Regions from separate parts of the Homo sapiens genome. Here region 1 is linked to region 2. The links come from fine-mapping of genetic effects on plasma protein levels. A gene starts in region 2. The other region holds a variant in brackets. All regions are shown on one strand. Distances are from middle to middle.

The links. PIP is the chance, under the fine-mapping model, that this variant and not a neighbour inherited with it causes the effect. The UK Biobank Pharma Proteomics Project read protein levels with antibody pairs (Olink). The fine-mapping took linkage between variants from a reference panel, not from the people measured, so its PIPs are less certain.
Region 1: its variant is fine-mapped to the plasma level of the UMOD protein (UK Biobank, PIP above 0.99).

The regions. Positions count from the first base shown.
Region 1 is chr16:20,379,759-20,382,677 of GRCh38, reverse strand. The region is part of intron 3 of PDILT (protein disulfide isomerase like, testis expressed); the gene reads left to right. Among named protein-coding and RNA genes, the nearest start is that of PDILT, 24 kb to the left of the region's middle. The variant C/T (reference allele first, on the strand shown) is at 1,668.
Region 2 is chr16:20,350,978-20,353,896 of GRCh38, reverse strand. It overlaps UMOD (uromodulin), which reads left to right and starts at 1,182. Exons shown (of 11, transcript NM_003361.4): 1 at 1,182-1,208.

The DNA of each region.
Region 1 (2,919 bases), 29 kb before region 2:
TGTAGCATATACTGTGTTCCAGGCATTGTTCTAGACCCTTCTCCTATGTCATAACACCCCAATATAAGAGGTGCTTTTACAGATGGAGAAACTGAGGCACAGAAAGGTAGAATAACTTCCTCAAAGCTGCCCAGTGAGTAGTGGTGGAGTCAGCAAATGTTTTCTGCAAAGGCCCAGATTATTAATATTCCAGATCCTACAGGCCAGGCAGTCTCTGTTGTAACTACTCAGATCTGCTGATGCAATGTGAAGGCAGCCACGTGTTAACAAATGGGAATGACTGTGTTCCAATAAAGTTTTATTTATACAGTCAAACAGCAGGCCAGATTTGGACTACAGGCTATAGTATGTTGAAATCCGCTTTACATTGCGCTGTACTCTAAGCAAGAGGCAGATGTGTTCATTATTATTATCAGACTATTAGTTTTCTCATTCTAGTCCAATGCCTGGAACAATTAAGTTCTTAACAAATAGTTTTTGAGCCAGGTGCAGTGGCTCAACCTGTAATCCCAACACTCTGGGAGGCTGATATGGGAAGATCACTTGTGCCCAGAAGTTTGAGACCAGCCTGGTCAACATAACAAGACCCTGTCTCTACAAAAACCTTAAAACTTAGCCAGGTGTGGTGGCAGATACCTGTATTCTCAGCTACTTAGGAGGCTGAGGTGGGAGAATTGCTTGAACCCAGGAATTTGTGACTGCAGTGAGCCATGATTGCACCACTGCACTTCAGCCTGGGTGACAGAGTGAGATCCTGTCTCTAAATTTTAAAATAATAATAATAAAAGTTTTAGATTTTGAATACAATGGAATTGGAAGCACCCACTGCAGGTGGGCATAGGGTAAAGTACCCACCCATATTTCTGCTGGGCTTGCTTCCTCAGTATTACTTCTAACCAGAGAAAGGGCAAAGGGAATGCCAGGATGAAGCTGGGACAGGGATTGAGGATGCCTGGATTTTAGGATGAGCAGTAACCATGGGAACTTCAACGAGCCTTTTACAACCAGGCTTCCAATTTCTCTTTTTTTTTTTTTTTTTTTTTGAGATGGAGTCTCACTGTTTTGCCAGGCTGGAGTGCAGTGGTGCGATCTCGGCTCACTGCAACCTCCGCCTCCCGGGTTCAAGTGATTGTCTTGCATTAGCCTCCCGAGTAGCTGGGACTACAGGCATGTGCCACCACTCCCAGCTAATTTTTAGTATTTTTAGTAGAGATGGGGTTTCACCATGTTGGCCAGGATGGTCTCAATCTCTTGATTTCATGATCCACCTGTCTCGGCCTCCCAAAGTGCTGGGATTACAGGTGTGAGCCACCGCACCCGGCCCAATTTCTCATTTTCTAAACAGGATGAGTAAGGCCAGTTCTGCCTACTTGCCAGGGCTCCTCTGAGCTGAGAGGAGACAGTGCTTTACGCATCTTCTGCAATGTGACTTTGATGAAAACTCCTCTTAGGACACTGGTGGGATTTAGTCCTTGCAGGGTCAAAGCCCCAGTCCCATTCTCATCTAATCTCCAAGGATTGATGGCAGGAGACTTGGCCATGGCCATTGCTCTGGAAGGAGGGAGACTCAGGTTGCCTCTAGGCCTCTATTAATGATGCAGCCACAGTCTGTGCCTGGAAATATGCAGCCCAGTGCTGGTCCTAGTCAATCATTGACATTGCATTCA[C/T]ACCTCAGTTGTCACCGTGTCCTCTGGCACAGAGCCAAGCACCAAAGGAGGTCCCTGACAAGGGCAGTGCCTGATCTGCAGGCACAAAGGAATCAACAATTTGCAGAGTTCATAACTACCTCGGTCCCACAGGGGCCAGAGGGGCAAATGGAGCTCACACGTCCCCAAGAAGATGGCCCAAGATCAAGTTTCCTCAAGCCAGCTTCCCTGATGATTCATTCAGCCCATTCATTCATTCTAGAAAGATTTCTTAAGCATCTACTATGTGCCAGGCATTACAGGAGCTTACTGGGAGCTCACACTGAACAAGCTAGTGAAAAATCATTCTAATAATTTCAAGAAGGGATAGACTCAATGAAGAAAATAGGGTAGCTCGGCTGGGCACGGTGGCTCACGCCTGTAATCCCAGCACTTTGGGAGGCCAAGGCGAGTGGATCACGAAGTCAGGAGTTCAAGACCAGCTTGGCCAAGATGGTGAAACCCCATCTCTACTAAAAATACAAAAAATTAGCTGGGTGTGGTGGCGGGCACCTGTAATCTCAGCTACTCCGGAGGCTGAGACAGAGAATTGCTTGAACCCAGGAGGCAGAGGTTGCAGTGAACTGAGATCACACCACCGCACTCCAGCCTGGGCAACAGAGTGAGACTCCATCTCAAAAAAAAGAAAAAAAGAAAAAGAAAATAAAAGAAAAGAAAATAGAACAGGTCATAAGACAGAGAGTGATTGGCTAAAAGAAAAGAAGAACCAACTGAGAATTGAACAGGCAGAAGAAGGCACTGCCCTTGAAGAGCTGAGGAAAGGGCAGCCCATCAGGAGGGACAAGCCAAGGCTGAAGCCAGTGTTCTGGAAGATAACTGTAACGTTGGAGTGTGGAAAGGGCAGAGGGTGGCACAAAGTGACATCAGAGCAATGGTTCTGATGACCTGAAATTTAAATTCATTTGGCAGGTTTTGTTTTTGGATATTTTCAGATTTTGTAAATCAATTCCTTTTGGATCACTTACAATATACTTTTGCCAGACAAAAGCATATAAGAGAAACCATTTGTTTCCAAGTGTGACTTATTTTTACCTAAAGATGGCTGGAAACACTGTACAGAAACTCAGTGTTGAGGCTGATATCTCAGAGGAGGGAATTACAGCAGATGTGGGGTACCAAGGTCTGAGGGTGGCATGATGCCTCCTCCTTCTCTCTTCTCTTGAAGCCACCATATCAGCTTCACATGAATTTCCATAGGTTTGACTCATTGTGG
Region 2 (2,919 bases):
ATAGCATTAGGAGTTATACCTAATGTAAATGACAAGTTAATGGGTGCAGCACATCAACATGGCACATGTATACATATGTAACAAACCTGCACGTTGTGCACTTGTACCCTAAAACTTAAAGTATAAAAAAAAAAAAGATCAATGCAGTGATCATGGTGATATTTTCCTGCTCAGCCCAAGTTCACACATATTTTATTTTTCTCAACATGATGACAGCCACTCTCACACTGACTTTTGGAATGTCATGTATGTTGAACTGGGTCTGAAGACATGGTTTTAACTCAGGCTCTGTCATTTTCTACCTCAGTGATTGCACAACAGCAAAGCAGAATTTTCACTACTTCCATGAATATAATCATTACTATATGACTTTACTTGCATCATCTCCTTTGGTTACTATTACTACTGTGGGAGATGGGTATTCTCATTTTATAGACAAGGAAATTGACCTCTGGACCTCAGGAAGGTTAAGAAATGAGCCCACTGCCACACAATAAACACCAGATAAAGGAGGCAGACTGACTCCAAAGTCAGTCTATTTAAGTGCAAATTTATTTCGCCTCCAAAGGGACCTCCCAGTCATCAGACCTGATTCTTTGTTGTACAGAGTGGGTCAGGTCCAGTGATGTCTGAACTACCTTCTGGTTCTGACTTTCAGCCATTCTCAGCTCCTCTCTTGCTTGTGTCTGGATTCTAAGGCTGATCTCATGAGAATGGGTGTTTCAGAAGGGTGCCCTCTCCAAGACAGGTGCACCTCCCATCTGGGGCAGTGAATATCCCTTTTGTCCTTATGCAGCCTGGCTTCAGATACTGGCTTCTGCCTGGCTCCTTGATCCCACCCTGCCCTTGTCAGTGACCAAGAAGAAGCCCAGCACCTTGGCACTGCTTTCCCAGTTAATTTCTAACTATGGAATCTCTTGCTGTTAGAAGGTGCGAAACAGTGACCTTGTATTTCCGGGCACAGGTGTGACCCCCCAATGTCAATCATTTGGGGTCTCTAGCTATTAGGAAAAAGAACAACAACAACCTCACAGCTTGGACAAGGCAAACATTATGCCAGGAGGAAAAAATATTCCACCCCCAAGAAAACAATATCAAAAAACAGAACTAGAGACTAATTGGAGGAGAGATTGCCAGCCTGGGGCAAATGTGTATATATAAGTATGAGGCACATCATGACCAGACTAACTCTACCTTTCTGGCTTCAGGTAAGGCTATCTGTAGCTGTCTTCTCCTAGCCCAGCTTCTCCCCATCCTATTTGAGGGAGGTAGGAGAGGAAATTAAGACCTTGGACACTGGGGTCAGACCTGGATTTGAGTCATTATTCTGCCAATTATTGGCTTCATGATCTTTAGTAAGTTAGTTTTCCTCTCTTTGATCCTCTCTGTCCTAGTAACAATGACTACTATTTTTTGACTTATTCCATGAATATTAGTTATGCACCTATTATGTGCCAGGTACCAGGGTTACAACAATGAACAACTTGCTATGTGCTGGGCCCTGCTCGACATATGTCATCTTAGTTAATCCCAGTGACAATATGCAGTGTTTTAGGTCGCATCTTATTAGCGGGTCATAAAATCATTCCTTTTGTGGGTTATATCCAGGGACTTCTTTTAATTAAATATAATAGAATATGTCAGTAAGCAATACAAATTTGAGGCAAGCAGTTAGCCTCTTTGTCCCCCTGTTTTCTCATCTGCAAACTAGGATAATACTTATCTCATAGGGTTGTGGTAAGAATTAAATCACTTAATGTAGTAAGGATATCAATTGTCTTATAAAATTTTATGTGTGTGTGCACATACATGCAGAAGCGACTGCACTAGATCATGACATAAAATGTTTTTCTTTCTTTCTGTCTTTTTTTTTTTGGGGGGGGGGGATGGACTCTCTGTCACCCAGGCAGGAGTGCAGTGGCACGATCTCAGCTCACTGCAACCTCTGCCTCCCAGGTTCAAGCAATCCTCCTGTCTCAGCCTCCCGAGTAGCTGGGATTACAGGCGCCCACCACCATGCCCGGCTAATTTTTGTATTTTTATTAGAGATGGGGTTTCACCATGCTGGCCAGGCTGGTCTCAAACTCCTGACCTTGTGATCCACCCCCTCAGTCTCCCAAAGTGTTGGGATTACAGGCATGAGCCACTGCACCTGGCAACATAAAATGTTTTTCTTTTAGTACATCATGGTCACGAAGATCTGGAAAACGTTGCTCTAGGACCCAATGCCTTTGAGCACATGAATGTCTTTGAACTGAGCCTGGCCCATCATAGATATTCAGTTTGTGAAAGCAACAATCTCCATTTCACAGACAAAAACGGAGACTTAGTAAACTGAAATACCCACATCACAGTGTTAGTGATCAGTAAAGCAGGGATTTGAACCTCAGGTGCAGGCTGCAGCTCCTACATACTTAACCAACATGCCACCCTATTTTGCTGCTATAAACACTGGGGTAATACTGGCATCCACCCTGGACTATTTTTCCAATTGGAAGAAATAGTAAGTGACCACTCCAGAAACATTTAAATGCATTGTGAAGGTTAATTACCTCTCAAGTTGCTCGTCTCAAGCCACTTCTTTACGATATGTGAGTTGCATGAAGGAGCAGACTGCCATGTTCATTGTTCTCCATGGTGACTAGCTCCCTGTTTGGCACAATGTAGCTACTCAATAGATGTTTGTTGAATGAATAAGTGATCCAGGCAAATTGAAAGTTTCCAGGCAGAGGATCAGTTAAAATCCAAAGCTGCCTTCAGTAAAGTGGTGAGTCCAGAACACTATTCCATCTGGCTACTTCCTGCTCCAAATGACTGAGTTCTTCAAAATGTGCAATGTGCTGAGAATTGGGGAGCCAAGACTGGGATGTTGGTGAGGTAAGGAGGGGGAGTACAAGGGGTAAAGTCCCAGCAAAACAA